Homo sapiens: one gene and its partners. The protein of the gene in region 2 interacts with the protein of the main gene of each other region in a pairwise test. Each region holds a gene or a part of one and is shown on either strand. Other genes may lie near its edges. The genes, in order: PHF20L1, ELAVL4, ZNF639 and TTC33.

Region 1 (3,927 bases), on a different chromosome or scaffold from region 2:
GAAAATAAAAATGTAACAGTGAAAAAATATTTTAAAATTTTAATACGGAAGTTGAGTCTAATTGACCAAGAAGTACAGTGAGTCCTCACTAAGGGTAATCAATAGGTTCTTGGAAACTGGCACACTGAATAATGAAATGAATTGTACTATAAGCTAATTGATACATACAAGTTAAGTTCCTATGGCATATAGCATGCTGTTTCATTTGGAGTCACAGTTTCCAAGAACCTATCAATGACATCATGTGAGAACTTGCTGTAGTGGTGGTGAACACAGCTGATACACTCTGGAATCCTGGAGGAGACATAGAGGCATCCTGGCAATCAGCACGGCACAGAAAGCCTTACCTGGTGGGTCCCGGCAGATATAGCAGATGTACTGCTCTGGAATGCTCTCCTCCAGCAGCCCCATGCACACGCTGTGTTGCCAACACAAGCACTCTTCACACTGCAGAAAACAGAGGAGTATTACAGTCACCCGATCCTCACTAGGAATAAGCTAGGAATAAGGATACATGCCCTTTCTTTGAATTGGCTGGCTTGGCTTCTTACTGCCACTATCAGTTTCATACTTATTTGACACAACAAAATCAAGCCATGACTTAAGATGAATTTTATCTTTGAAATGGTCAACTACTTCACGAACTTTCTTTTGTTGCACCTATTAGAATATGCTTTGATCAAGTACTTAAGTCATAATTTCTCTAATTTAATTCTCACTGATATTTAGGCAATCATATCATAAAACTCTTAAAATAGTTTATTAAAATGCGGAAATTAGGGGAAAAAAAAGTTGGTAGCAGTGTCTATACCAATGATCTCTTAAAGTACTACTTCTGTGGTGAAGTTATAAATTCATAGTTCCCTCCATAAAACCACAGAAAAATGGGAGGAAAAAAGATTACTCTTTCTTCATGCTCTCAACTAACATCTCCAAATCTTCTGGCATCACAAAATTTGGGTTATGCTTTCCTTTTATCTTAAAGATATCTTTCCTACAAGAAGAAGTTGTTAACTCCTGCAACAAAATTTTTCCTTTAAGAATACTGGACATTTTTATGTTTTAATCACTGACAAGTGAAGGGTGACTATAAATTATTATTATAATAATTCACATGAATGCAGATGAGGAAGAGAAAGGTTGCTGTAGCCTGCCCTTTCGTGTGAGGGTTTACCACCCTAATCACTCTAAAGAGTTTCAGTTTGAAGGCACTGAACTACATACCCTAGAAAAGGAAGAGAGATGCTAAAATAAGAACATTGTCTACTTTACTTAATGAGGAAATCTCCTAATCATTACTATGGGTATTTTCCACACAGTAAGTTAGAAACCACTATCTTCAGTAGTACAGTCAGTAAAGAAATAAAACACCGTGATGCATTTGCTGAGCACCTGAAACAACTAACTCATTATAGGGAAGAGAGGTTAACCAATTACCTGGATCATGAAGCCATTCTCCTCATCCATCTCACAAATACATCGCACAATTTCATTAAGAGCATCATCCTCATCCTGAGATTCCTCAAAATTGGTTGAATCAAAGTCCTGATTGTATTCATCCCCACTCAGAAGCAAACTCTCCGTTGAAGAATCATCTAGGAAGTCTACATCTGATAAGTCTAGAATATATACAAAAAGTATACTTAGAACAACTTTTCTATTTTCATGTTATTTTTCATAAAGAAAGGAGCTATGAGAAGTGAACATAAGCTATTAAACATTTTAAAAAGGGGGAGCAAACAAATAAGAATACTGTACTGTACTTGTCTCTGGACATGGAAACAAAAGATTTTTGAAGCTTAGGTAATTATGACTGCTTTATATCTTATAGTATACACTATTATAAGTAACTCAAAGTGTCTTTTAGACTTCATGCTTACAGAATTTATGGCTAAGGCTGATGTCAATAAATTTGCACAGTTTCCATACACTTTCACAAACATTATCCCTTCTGACCCTCATAAAAACCCTGTGTTGTCCCCTTGTGATTTCATAGTATCAGTGTGACACCACTGTCCGTGGACCTGGGGACAGGTGTGTGTAGTAAGCCCCCATTAGCCAGCACAAGCTGGCTCTAGCACACCACTGATTCTTCATTCTTTTTCTTCTTTCTTTTTTGGATTAATAAAGTGCTTTTTGAAAAATCACTTAAAAAAAAAAACTCTGAATTGTAAAGAGGACGGGTTTTATTATTCATACTATAAACAACTTCAGAGAGGTAAAGGAGCTTGCCTAGGGTCTAAAATCAACAATAGCATTATTGACAGTATCAGCAGCATCAACTACTATAGCACTTAGTAAGCACACAGTGCTATATTAAGCACTTTAAACACAGGATATATAACTTGCTTGAGAAACGCAGCCATGGAGTGGGAAAACCAACTGAATACCAGGAATGCCTGATTCTCAAGCCTGTGTTCTTAATGACTTTACCAGTATTTCTTAAAACCGGAACCGTGAGTTCCCCAAGGGATTTTTAAAATGTATTAATTTCGTCTTGGTAAAAATATATTTTTAGATTAAGCATATCCTAGAAACAAGACTATATGGATGACTACTACATACAACTCAATTTACATGTCAGGTTTTAGGCGTGTGTGTATAATAGTGACAATGCCAAAGCCTACCATTTTGCTCAGGTTACTGAGGAAAAGAAAATTGAGACAGACACGGGGGAATCTTTATTTATAACAATGGAAAGTAAATGATGATGGAACACTAAAATTTTTGCAGTAGTTTGGATGGAGAAATGTTAGGAAAACTGAGTCATCATGAGAAACAGAACATCGTATAATGCTGTGTGAGCTCCTGACAGAGGCTAATCAGCAGAGCACCTTCCTACCTCACATCCTATCCCCTAGCCACATTCTGAGTTATCTCTTCACTTGCTTATCATCTGTCTTCTCTTACTAGAATATCAGAATCCATGACAGCAAGAACTTTGCATTGTTGAATGCTACATCCCCAGTTATTAGAATGAGGCCTGATATATAATATAGCCACTCCAGAATGTTTGTAGAAGAACTAAGGAGAGAGTCAGAGAGAGAATATTTTCTTTTCAGACTTAATCAGATGGGACCGAAGTTGAACAGATTTGAACTTTAAAAATTCACGCTATTTATACTCTACATTTTTCACATGATTTAGTGTTTCCTCTATCAGCTTCTAATCTTGCTTACTTTTTTCTTCATTCAATGTTTTTGAATGTTTTGTTGTTGATTAATGTTTTATAGAAAAATAAAGTTTTCTTCTCTTTGAAGTCACAGGGACATACGGAAGGAAGGTCAGCAGAAATAGATAATAAAGAAATATCTGAAAATATTCATGGAGCTAGTAAATCAACTAGATATGGAAAATCTAGTATGAACAGTATAACTTGTTTTAAAAGAACCTAAAGAGGAAAATTTCACCCATCCATAATCTTGCTGGCTTAAATCCAAATTTTCTTTTGGGCTTTCTCAAGTTCATTGGAATGTGGGTAAAACAGTTTCAAACACTGTTGCAGCATATAAACAGTATTAAATGGGCCGGGCACAGCGGCTCACACCTCTAGTCCCAGCACTTTGGGAGGCCGTGGTGAGAGGATCACTTTAAGTTAGGAGTTTGAAACCAGCCTGTACAACAAAGCAAGCCCTCATCTCTACAAAAGCAAAAATAATTTGCTAGGCATGATGACCTGTGCTGGTAGTCTTAGCTACTCAGGAGGCTGAGGCAAGAGGATTGCTTGAGCCAAGGAGTTTGAGGCTGCAATGAACTACGATCACACCAGTATTTCAGCCTAGGCAACAGAGCAAGATCTTGCCTCAATAAATAAATAAATAAAAATTAATTTGAAATTATATCATTGAAAGGAATTAGTGTATCTCACATATACTTGCATGGCAAAGATTACCAGTTTTATGGTGTTAGCAAGCAAATTTATCATAT
Region 2 (3,927 bases):
GTTGCTGCAGGGGGTTCTCTCCACATGGAAGGAAACACTGGGAGTGGGAAATGAGTATCTCCCTGTTGGAAGCAGCCCTCTGTATTGCATGCTTCATTTGTTTACTTTCCTTTCCAGACTGGGATTCGTGAAGCAGAGACATTCCCAACACCCATCCCAGGGCCTGGCACATAGTAGATGTTTAGGAAGGGGAGGAATGAATGAACTCCCATCTTCTAATGCCAGTGTTTTTCTAAAGGAGCAATTTTCTGGGGCTAAAAAGGATGCCTTTTCCCTCTCATTTTATCCTCCTCATTGCACCCAACATGCCTTTATCGTGTTTTCCATGTCCTCTCCCTTTTCTGTATTATGGAGGACAGACAAGGAGTGAGGTATTGCTGGATGATTCAGGGAACATTCTTCCTCAGGTCATGCTGTTCTTCCCACCCTGCCCAGGCCAAGCCCTGTGTATGAACAGGTAAAGGGAGTTGTGGGTGCTGCATGGGAAGAGGCAGCCCTCAGCCCTCGTCCTGATGCCCCATCTGTGATGAATGACAACGCCTGCTTTACCCACCTTGGTGAGACTTGCTGAGAGCAGAATTGGGAAGTCACTTTGGAAAGTGGAAAGTACTTTGTCGGCATAAAGCAGTGGGATCTGTGGAAATGTGTTAGAGGACATTCATGTCAGTAAAGTGGTAAAAGATGGTCCAGACCCCACCAGGGTGGCAGAGGAGGGCAGTGCCTCTACAGGCATTCCCTGGTAGTGTTCCACATGTTTTTTTTGTTTGTTTTTTGGGGGTTTTTTTCCGGTGAAATTGGAGGGTATGTCCCAATGGGAGCTAGATTCCCAGGCTGGCCCACAAAAGCCTGTATGACTCATCACATAATAATATGTGTAAGTATCTACTAAGTTCTAGGTATGTGCTAGACAAATATATCAACTCAGTTCTTACAATAACCCATCAAAGGATAATTGACCCCCTTTTTACGAGCAAAGATGTTGAGACTTATCAAGATCAAATTACTTGCCTAAGGTCATGCAGCTAGTGAGTACTGGAGCTGACCCACAGTCAGGGATCATAAGCATGATGCTATAGCATCCTTCTGGTGGAGGATGGGAAGACTGTGAGCACCAGGGATGGGGAGAGCTGAGGAGCTTGGAGGGACTTCAGATCTTCCATAGAGATCATCTGTAAAGTCAGCTGCTTACAGTCACCTGGCTTTGAGCCACCCCTACCCAGAGAGAGGAGTGGCTTCTTCACTCCCAGCCCTTTCTGAGTTCCAGAAGGAGGTCAGTGCTGGCCTAGAGATGCCAGTCTTGTCTTCAGAGATTCTGGATGAATGAAGCAAACAGGATCCTGACTGAGGCAAGGGGGGTTCTCCAGGGCGCTGGCTCCAGTGTTGGAAGCCCTGTGACTCCAGGCCACTGGCCCAGGGGCATTAATATGCCATCAATGCTGACCCTGAAAATTGGCAATTTTTTGGAAATCTTTCAGCCTAACCAAGGGCCTGACCACTGTAGTCATTCAGTTAGAATTTAATACATGTATATGGAAAGTTGAAAATTTTAGGTACTAGGATGAACATTTGGATATTCAATGCAGGAAGATCTTTTTTCTGTCATTTTTGTTTATCCATACGCCACAGGTTTCATGGACAGGAAACTGAGAGAACAATAGACTTAAGGTTCCATATAGGTGAGAAATACTAAACAGGAATTAGACTTGGTAGAGAATGATTGATGTGCTGTTCACCTTTGGGATTTGTTGCTGCCTTTGGGGATTTAGGGTCTGTCTCTGGAGATGTGTTGCAGTAATTCTCCCTAGCTGAGATTCTACCTATGTTGGAATCAACTTTTGGGGAAATGGTTTTTGTTGTGTCACCAACTTTCAAGTGCCAGCTCCTCTTCCCTGGCAGGGTTCACCCTGTTCCCTCTGTACCCTAGCTCTGGCTGTGCAGAACTAATGGGAGTTAAGGTCATGACTATCCATTATGCATTTATTGGGTGCCAGGTACTGTGCTAAGCCCTTGATCTTCATCACCTCATTTGTCCTCGTGACAGAGGAAGGCTATTATCAGGCCACCATTACCTGACTCCACCACCACCTTTCTCACCACCAGTCTCAGCTCAGCTGTGTCTCCTTCCCGGCCCTTTTAACCTTTGATTAATCTCTCCCTCCTCTGTGTTTTAGTCACACTCATATGTATCCCTGGCATAACACACACATCTTGTGGCACTGTGATAATTGGTCTGTATGTTTACTCATCCATTCTTTTGTTCAACACATTTTATTGAGTGCCTCTTATGTGTTGTCTGTTGCCCTCTTTGGACTTGGAGTTCCTTTACAGCAAGAGACTATGCCTTGTTCTTGCTGTGTTGCCAACACATACCACTGTACCTGGCTCATAGTAGATCCTCAGGAAATATTTGCTAAGAGAAGGCCTCTATGTGAGGTCTAGTCCTAGAACAATCTTCTTTCAGTCCTTCCAGCCCCAGGCATTGGAAAATGGGAAATATGTCCCTTAGCTCTTAGCTTGGTGGAGAAACACAGCTGGGATTCTGGGTGCCTGACTCTCAGTGGTCCACCTTACTGGAGTTACAGTTAACTCCAAAGAGCCAATAATATCAACATCATTTCTCATGAGCTGTGGGTGTTTATTCATTTTTTCAGTAGGTGTTGAACACTTTATAGGTATCAGGCTATGTGCTGGGAGCTAGAGTCACAGAGTTGAATAGGACACACACACACACAAGACCTACAACCTAAAGAGATCATCAGCCTAGATGGAGAGGTGGTCAGTTAAGGTTGAAACGGGTTAAGTACCATGGTTCATTGAGAACACTGCTGGGGAGATTTTTAGGAGAAGGTGAGATTAGAGAAAGCTGCCTAGAGAAGATGTCATTTGATCTGAGCCCTGAAGAGGAGTAGGATTTGGACTTGAGGAAGTAGGTATAAAAAAAATGTCTGTATGAGCAAAGGTATAAAGGTGGTAGGTTGTGTTTTGAGGGAGCACAAATGTCATTCGGATAATTAATTTGTCAGTAATTGGCAAGGTGAAACAAGGGTGACCCTCATTGCCATGGGCATATCACTATGATGTTTTTATTTCCTTCTTCCACTTCTTCCTCTTACTCAAAAAATAGTTCTGCTATTGACACACTTTGTCCCTTAAAGAACAGGGGTGGGAGAACCTTCTGTGGAGTGAAGCCCTGTCCAGACAGTCACATGGGGTTCTTAGTCCTTCAGCCCACACTGCAAATGCACACACTGGGACCCCCTATATAAAGGCCCCTCTACATCTCAGCCATGTGCTGAGAAGGAGCCCACAGAGGCCTCCCAGCCCACCCGTGAGTTTCTAGAAGATGGAGATACTGAAGGCAGCTGCCTCACTCCATCAGCAGGAGGAGGCCAGGGAGGCAGATTAGTCACTCACATCATTTTATCTGTTGAGTCAACATCTATTTTTAGGCATGGAACCCATAAAGGGACCTGGCATGTCTGTCATGGAAAGGGGGAGAGTGCCATGGATGAGGGTTCTGCTCATCCTTCATCTTCTTTGCTAGACCCATTCTCTCCCCTGAAGGTCACAGAAGCAGGGTCCACATTACTGCTGGAGGTTTAGGTCTTAATGTCAAAGGTCTGGTTTAATGTGTTCAATTCCTTTTGCACACATGCTTTTGTGTGCACGCACACACACACACACACACACACACACACACACACACACACACACTCTCACCCCTACAGTCTTAATAGGTCTTATGAATCAGTTGTATGGATTAAATAGAACTTCCAACTGAAAAACGCTAAGGCATATAGGTCTCTTCCTGTCCAACGTTGTCAGATGTGCTCTGAAATGACTGTTTTCATCATCTATTCTGAGCCATAACCACCCCAGAAATAGCTTTAGCAGGAAAGTGCTTTTGTTAGACTAGCTGTAAATTAT
Region 3 (3,927 bases), on a different chromosome or scaffold from region 2:
CCGAAAAAAAAGTAAAAATAAAATAAACTGAAAAAGCACTATCTCATTCCCTGCTGTATTATATCACTTCAGTGCTGATATACCCAGAACTTAGTGAAGCAGCAAAAATAGTATGTGCACCTCAGCTAGAACACCTGTCATGTGTATCACCTTGGTGTTAAGAGCATTATAGGCCGGGCGCGGTGCCTCGTGCCTGTAATCCCAGCACTTTGGGAGGCTGAGGTGGGCGGATCACTTGAGGTCAGGAGTTCAAGACCAGCCTGGCTAACATAGTAAACCCCCGTCTCTACTAAAAATACAAAAATTAGCTGGGTGTGCTGGCGGGTACCTGTAATCCCAGCCTCCTGCTGGCGGGCGCCCGTAATCCCGGCCACTCAGGAGGCTGAAGCAGGAGAATCGCTTGAGCTGGGGAGGCAGAGGTTGCAATGAGCCAAGATCGTGCCACTGCACTCCAGCCTGGGTGACAGAGCAAGACTCCGTTTCAAATAAATAAATAGATTAATAAATAAAGTTGGGTAAACCTTTATTCAAATCCCAACCCCAGCATTTACTGAGTATCTAGCTTTGACTTTACTGTGCCTCAGTTTCCTCAATAACAGGAACTATAATTTTGAGAGGGTGATGTGAATTTTGCATCTCATACGATTACATAGGATTAAATGAGATAAAGTATGTTCACAGCCTGGTACATAATTGGTGGTCAGTAAATTATTATTATCACTTTTACTTTTTTCTTTTTTTGTTTTGTTTTGATTTTTTGTTTTTGAGAGAGAGTCTTGCTCTGTTGCCCAGGCTGGAGTGCAGTGGCACGATGTCAGCTCACTGTAGCCCTCCGCCTCCCAGGTTCAAGCCATTCTCCTGCCTCAGCCTCTTGAGTAACTGGGATTGCAGGTGCGCACCATCACACCCGGCTGATTTTTGTATTTTTAGCAGAGACGGGATTTCACCATATTGGCCAGGCTGGTCTCGATCTTTTATTTCTTAAATAAATAATCTATAAGGGCTGTAACAGTTTAAAGTTTATAATTTGGGCCAGGCAAGGTGACTCACGCCTGTAATCCCAGCACTTTGGGAGGCCCAGGTGGGTGGATCACCTGAGGTCAGGAGTTTGAGACCAGCCTGGCCAACATGGTGAAACCCCGTCTCTGCTAAAAATAGAAAAATTAGCCCGGTGTGGTGCCACATGCCTGTAATCCCAGCTACTTGGGAGGCTGAGGCAGGAGAATCGCTTTAACCCAGGAGGCAGAGGTTGCAGTGAGCTGAGATCGCGCCATTGCACTCCAGCCTGGGTAACAAGAGCAAAACTCGGTCTCAAAAACAAAAAGTTTATAATTTGGTTTGCTTTCATTATGCTTGCTTTCCTTATGGATGAATAAATTAATTCAGATTCATAGTCCTATTTTGGTGTCAAAAGATTTAACTATAGGTCAGGCATGAGACTGTCTCAAAAAAAAAGAACTATAGAAGGTAAATCATTTCAAAGAAATGTGGAAATTTGCATATAATCACATATTTATCAAGATATACAGTTTTTAGTATGTAGTACATTGTTTTCAAAATAATATATCTTAATTAGTTCTGTATAACTTTCCAATTGATTAAAGATCTGGTGCCATTGTATTATTCAGTACCAGAAATGAGCTGTATTTTTGCTTAATAACTTCTTTCATGTTTTACTTACAGGCATTTTTTACTGTCTACAGAAACTTATTGTAATTCATTTTTCCTCACTCCAGTAGTAAGAATTATACCAAGTAAGTGGACTGTATTGAAACTAATTAATTTTGTAACAGTTAATGAGAATTTAATTGGATAGTGGTTGCTGCATGTGTTGTGTTCTCAGTGGAACGTTGAATGTGACCTCATAAATAGGAAAATGATTTTTTTCTTGAAAATTATTTATATTCTGATCTGTGTGATGAGTACTTTTTTCTGGAAGCCAGGAGGCCGATACATATTTGTGACAATATTTTTTTAAAGGAAATGTCTCCGCCTTTAGCTTGAAAACTACCTAAAAATACTTCCAATGGTAGGAAATGTGCCTATAAAACTCCTAGTATGGTGCCATAGGCACAGTGTTTCTTTTTTTATATATACACAAAATAAAATGACTTAAACATGTGGTTTATTGTAATTATCCAGTTCTCACAATTTATATCAACATTTGAAAAAGAATTTTTTAACCTCCGTAAGAAAGAAAACAGAAATCAGTTTCTGCCTTGAAACCTGACTGGAAAACAATCTGAAATACAAACAGAGGCATCATTTAACACTTTTCTTATACCATAGATTTTCAGGTGGCTCACATATTTCATATTGCCAATAAATTCTTCAGTTAGAATTTTTATAACGTCATTAACAGTTGTTATTTGTGACATATTTGTTAATTTTTTCTCGTTTTTTAGATTGAAAAGATATGAATGAGTATCCTAAAAAAAGAAAAAGGAAGACTCTACACCCTTCTCGTTATTCAGGTCAGTGTATAATTATTTTAAAGTTGGGTATGGATTAATTCCCACAAAATTATATTCTCATCCATTTTCTCCTAAGTGATCAGATAAGACTTAAATATCTGGGTCAATATTTAGGTAAAACAACGGTTTAAATACATTATCTGAATATATATTCCTTATTGTCTACCATGTGCTAGGCACACATAAGAACTTTACAGACATTATATTATTCCTCACAGCTCTATGGGTTATAAATATTTAAAATTAGATAGCCAAGGTTATTTACTTATATAACATAATTGGGATTTGCATGTCTGATACCTAAGCTGTGCTTAAGACCCAATAATGACAACCTTGGTAGAAAATATTTTACATTATTGGGGAAAAAAGACTTTATCCTCTTTATTACTTTAGGAAATGTAAACTTTCATGCTGAATGTGTAATTTTTTTTTTTTTTTTTTTGAGACAGAGTCTCACTCTCTAGCCCAGGCTGGAGTGCCATGGTGTGATGTCAGCTCACTGCAACCTCTGCTTTCTGGGTTCAAGTGATTCTCCTGCCTCAGCCTCCCAAGTAGCTGGGATTACAGGCGTGTACCGCCACACCTGGCTAATTTTTTGTAGTGTTAAAGTAGAGATGGGGTTTCACCATGCTGCCCAGGCTGGATGACTGTGTAATTTTAGATCCTTTCATTGAGGTTGGCTCTGCTGTGTTGGCAGTATAAGAAAAGGGGTCTTTGTGGCCATCTCTAATACACCTCGCATACATTTACTTGGGACCATCTCAGTCTTACCTATTAGTCTACCCAGCCTACACATTCTTCATATCTGAAGAAATTAACCCTAGTATACTGCTTACTGGCCCTTCCTAGACAACACTTGAAATGACTATATTCAGAAGCCCTAAGTGGTCCTTACCATTTCCCCTATGTAACAACCTTTCTCTGCATGACATGGCACACCTTCCTGGTGTTTATTTCACTGTTTTGTGCAGTTAATACAGTGTTTATCATATATTTTTATTTTGTGTGATTCTGAGTATAAAACAAATGTATCCTTGTATATTTCAAAGTTGTTATGTTTTAGAGTATGTAATTTGTGGTTCTTTCAAAGTCCTATGTCAATATTGGATCTGAAATATAAAAGCTTTAAAAGTTGAAAATGTATAATATTTTCATTACAGATACTATAATTAACATTAAGAACATTTGTATAAGTTAGATAACGGGAAGTTTCTCATTAAATATGTATGTTTACTGTACTTGAAATATTTTTCATTTTATGTTCAGATTCCTCTGGAATAAGCAGAATTGCAGATGGATTCAATGGAATTTTCTCTGATCATTGTTACAGTGTCTGTTCTATGAGACAGCCAGATTTAAAATATTTTGACAACAAAGGTATATCTAATATTTTCGAAAATATGTTTCTTTAAACTGCTTTTACATTTTTTATTCCTTACTTGAAAATGTGGGT
Region 4 (3,927 bases), on a different chromosome or scaffold from region 2:
TGGCATATGCCTGTAGTCCTAGCTACTCAGTAGGCTGAGGTGGGAGGCCCTTGAGCCCAAGAGTTCAAGGCTGCAATGAGCTGTGATCATGCCAGTGCAACGGAGCAAGACTCTGTCTCTCAAAATAATTTTTAAAAAAGCAAATAACACCAAATTTATATTCACTTACTTTGAGTAGTAAGTGAATTAACTTTTTGGGAAAATAATTGTATGTTAAATAATTGTATTGAAAGTGCTTTGTAAAACATAAAATGCTTTGGAAATATAAGTGTTGCTATGTGGTCTGAAGTGGTACTCATAGTTAGTGGGCTAGAGCCACTGGAGGAGGTCTTCATGAAGAACGGAGCATTTTAACTTGGTCTTAGAGGAGGAGCCTTTGAATAGATGAAGAGGAGTAGGAAGGCAATCTTAGATATGTGATATGGTTTGGCTCTGTGTCCCCACCCAAATCTCACCTTGAATTGTAATAATCCCCGTGTCAAGGATGGGACCAGGTGGAGATAATTGAATTATGGCGGCAGTTTCTGCCATGCTGGTCTCATGACACTGAGTTCTCACGAGATCTTATGGATTTATAAGGGGCTTCCCTGTTTGCTCAGCGCTCATTTCTCTCTCGTGCCTCCATGTGAAGAAGGATGTGTTTGCTTCCCCTTCTGCCATCCTTGTAAGTTTCCTGAGGCCTCCCCAGCCCTGTGGTACTGAGTCAATTAAACCTCTTTCCTTTATAAATTTCCTAGTCTTGGGCAGTTCTTTATTGCAGCGTGAGAGTGAACTAATACAGATGTGTGTGTGTGTATGTGTAGCAGGGGATCCATACTAACAAAGGCATGATATGTGGGTAGGGACTATAAAAACCCTGCTGAGTGGAGCACAGGTATGTGTAGGGAGTGGTAGAAAAAAGATTGGACAAACAGTCCAACCTTTTCCTTCTAATGCTGGAGGAAAGACATTTGCTACTATTAAGTCTTGCAGAATTTATTACTGCTACCTTTGTTAGAAAATTGTGAGTGGAAGGATTGTTATGAAGGAATACATCAATAAATTAATTTCCAAAGTTTTTCCTGTCACATCTACAATAACATTTGGAAATATTGTTTAGAGAGGCTTGAAATCACCCACAATATGCCTAAAGAAGTGCAAGTACTTTCTTTTTAGGTGATATAGTTACTGCTTTTAGAGGTTATATCATTAAAGCTTAGTAGATGATGGCACCACAGTACTAAATTTATTTAATGTTGTATATACTTTTATTATTATTATAAATAATCAGAAATGGGTGTTAAATTATACTAAGTATTGTTTAGTGGCATGTACTTTTTTCTCCCTTATCTGTTACATATGAACCCATTTCTAAGTTTTTCTGAGCATACACTACATGATCATGTGGATTTTGTACTTTAGTAAGTTGCTGGACTTAATTTGCTAATCCTTTATTTTGGATTTTTACATATATTTCATGGACTAGAAAGTAGTCCAAAAAACTGTTGAACTGAAAGTACATGACTGCTCCTCCTGAAAGCAGTCTAAGAGTAGAATGGTGTTTGCCCGGGGGTGGAGGAGGGGGCAATGAGGAGTTATTGTTTAATGGGTATGGAGTTTCAGTTTGGGAAGATGAAAAAGTTCTGGAGATGAATGGTGGTGGTGGTTGCACACAAAGGTGAATGAACTATATGTACTTAATGCTACTTAATGCCTCTGAACTGTACACTTAAATGGTTAAGATGGTAAATTTTATATTTTACTACAATAAAAATTTTTTTTTGAAAGTCCAAAAAAGCATATTGAAAATATGGCATTGATATAACTTTAACAACCACAGATATCGGGAGGCAATTCAGAAGTGGGATGAAGCACTACAGTTAACTCCAAATGATGCTACCCTATACGAGATGAAATCACAGGTAATAATTATGAAGAATTTCACTTTCCTTATGAAATTGTGCTATGTTTGTTCGGTGAGTGAGCAATGATGAAGCAAAATAGCATTTTCTCCCATTTTCTTTTACAAATACGGTTTCTTTGGGAAAAAATATTTCACCATTATTTATGGTTCTGTCTTATGCATAAAACTGGAAATTCATTTGCCTTTACAATGAAGTTAACTGTTATTTTAGCCTAACTATTGTAAGATAGGAATCGGTGGCTATCTTTTAAAGTCACTGGTGGGCAGGTGCCATGGCTCACGTCTGTAATCCCAGCAATTTGGGAGGCCGAGGTGGGTGGATCACTTGAGGTCAGAAGTTCGAGACCACCCTGACCAACATGGTGAAACCTTGCCTCTACTAAAAATACAAATATTAGCTGGGCGTGGTGGCACATGCCTGTAGTCCCAGCTACTTGAGAGGCTGAGGCAGGAGGACCACTTGAACGTGGGAGGCGGAGGTTGCAGTGAGCTGAGATAGTGCCACTGCACTCCAGCCTGGGTGACACAGCGAGACTCCATCTCAAAAAAATAAATAAGTAAATAAAAAATAAATAAAAAGTCACTGTTGAGCTCTTAGATGAAAAACATACGCTTTCCTTGTGATTAAATATAGTAGACTTAGCAAAATAGTTCAGTTTTCTTAAAAATGAGGATGGATTGGGTTCTAGATGAGATATTTCTAAAAATGGCTTAGTCCTTAGCAAAAGGTCAGCATAGATGCAATTTTATTAATAGCTTAAAAATAACATTTGTACTTTAAAAACATGTTTCTAATATTTTGTAGGAAAGTCTGTAAAGAAAACCTTTGAGCACTTGAATAGGTTATCCAAGTGATTTTAAAAGTCTCACACAGAGCATTAAACATATTTTTGGCAGGGAATTGTTGCAATTCAGCCTTAATCTGCACACCTAACAAATATTTTTCAAATCGTGATCTCAAATATAGGACACACATTTGTCACCTTTGACTTTAGTTTATCCAGGAAAAACCCAAATAAATTATGTCATCTGAATCAAGTGATATGAGGACCTTCATTTGTATTCCTTTTTCAATCTTAAATATGTATATATGAATGACAGGTTTGTGGCAAGCTTTATGAAGACTTGTTTAATTTGGAACCTGATAATAATGTTTGTATCACAAATCTTTTAAAGTGTTAATGGTCCTAAAGATTATAGATAAAATCCAGCCTCTTCCCACAGACCACAGTGGAGGGTACTAGAACTCTCTGGTAACCCTAACTCTCCCTAACCCTAACCCTAACCCTAACCCTACCTTCCTAGTATGTATGGTTTGAAATGCCCAGTAGTGAGAAGGCCTAGGGAATGTTTTAAATACTTTTTATAACATAAAGATGTTCATTAGGGACGGGATGGCTGGTTGAACAAATTAATTCACCTAGTTTAATGGCAATACCTGGGGTTCCCTGAAAACCACATTGTAAATAGAATAAATGGAAGTGGAATTGGGAGTTCAAAATACCTCTGAGCCACCATAGTTAGGATATGACCACTTGGTTTTGACCAGATGGACATAAGATTCAATAACTGGAAAGGGAATCGTTTACATTTTCATAGTTATATAAGGGGTGAAAAGAGAACTATAATTTCTTACCCTGAATGGCAGAGTAAGGGGTAAAAATCACCGAAATGCTATTTTTACTGGACTAAAAATATATCTTAAAAAATGAAAAGGGTTTTTTATGTAGTTGCTAGTTTATGAATATTACTGACAGATTTTTTGGTCTTTTTTTGCCTATAGGTGCTAATGTCTCTTCATGAAATGTTCCCAGCAGTACATGCAGCAGAAATGGCCGTCCAGCAAAATCCACATTCATGGGAGTCTTGGCAGACTTTGGGACGTGCTCAACTTGGTTTAGGAGAGATAATCCTGGTGAGGAAGTCAGATTATTATAATGCAGAAATTTTAAGTATATTTTGACTTTTTTTTTTTTTTGAGATGGAGTCTTGATGTCACCCAGGGTACAGTGCAGTGGTGCAAT

The links.
Region 1: the proteins of ELAVL4 (region 2) and PHF20L1 interact in a two-hybrid assay, tested with the Homo sapiens proteins (one large-scale study listed by BioGRID and IntAct).
Region 3: the proteins of ELAVL4 (region 2) and ZNF639 interact in binary tests that used the Homo sapiens proteins (3 or more experiments, as listed by UniProt).
Region 4: the proteins of ELAVL4 (region 2) and TTC33 interact in binary tests that used the Homo sapiens proteins (3 or more experiments, as listed by UniProt).

What each region holds. Positions count from the first base shown.
Region 1 is NC_000008.11:132,834,232-132,838,158, reverse strand, and holds part of PHF20L1 (PHD finger protein 20-like protein 1), read right to left. Parts: intron 1,620-3,927; coding exon 1,438-1,619; intron 448-1,437; coding exon 348-447; intron 1-347.
Region 2 is NC_000001.11:50,188,851-50,192,777, forward strand, and holds part of ELAVL4 (ELAV-like protein 4), read left to right. Parts: intron 1-3,927. UniProt on the Homo sapiens protein: RNA-binding protein that is involved in the post-transcriptional regulation of mRNAs. Plays a role in the regulation of mRNA stability, alternative splicing and translation.
Region 3 is NC_000003.12:179,325,878-179,329,804, forward strand, and holds part of ZNF639 (zinc finger protein 639), read left to right. Parts: intron 1-1,087; exon of another isoform or gene 1,088-1,467; intron 1,468-1,683; 5' UTR 1,684-1,754; intron 1,755-2,405; 5' UTR 2,406-2,416; coding exon 2,417-2,474; intron 2,475-3,740; coding exon 3,741-3,851; intron 3,852-3,927. UniProt on the Homo sapiens protein: Binds DNA and may function as a transcriptional repressor.
Region 4 is NC_000005.10:40,728,236-40,732,162, reverse strand, and holds part of TTC33 (tetratricopeptide repeat protein 33), read left to right. Parts: intron 1-1,819; coding exon 1,820-1,901; intron 1,902-3,686; coding exon 3,687-3,818; intron 3,819-3,927.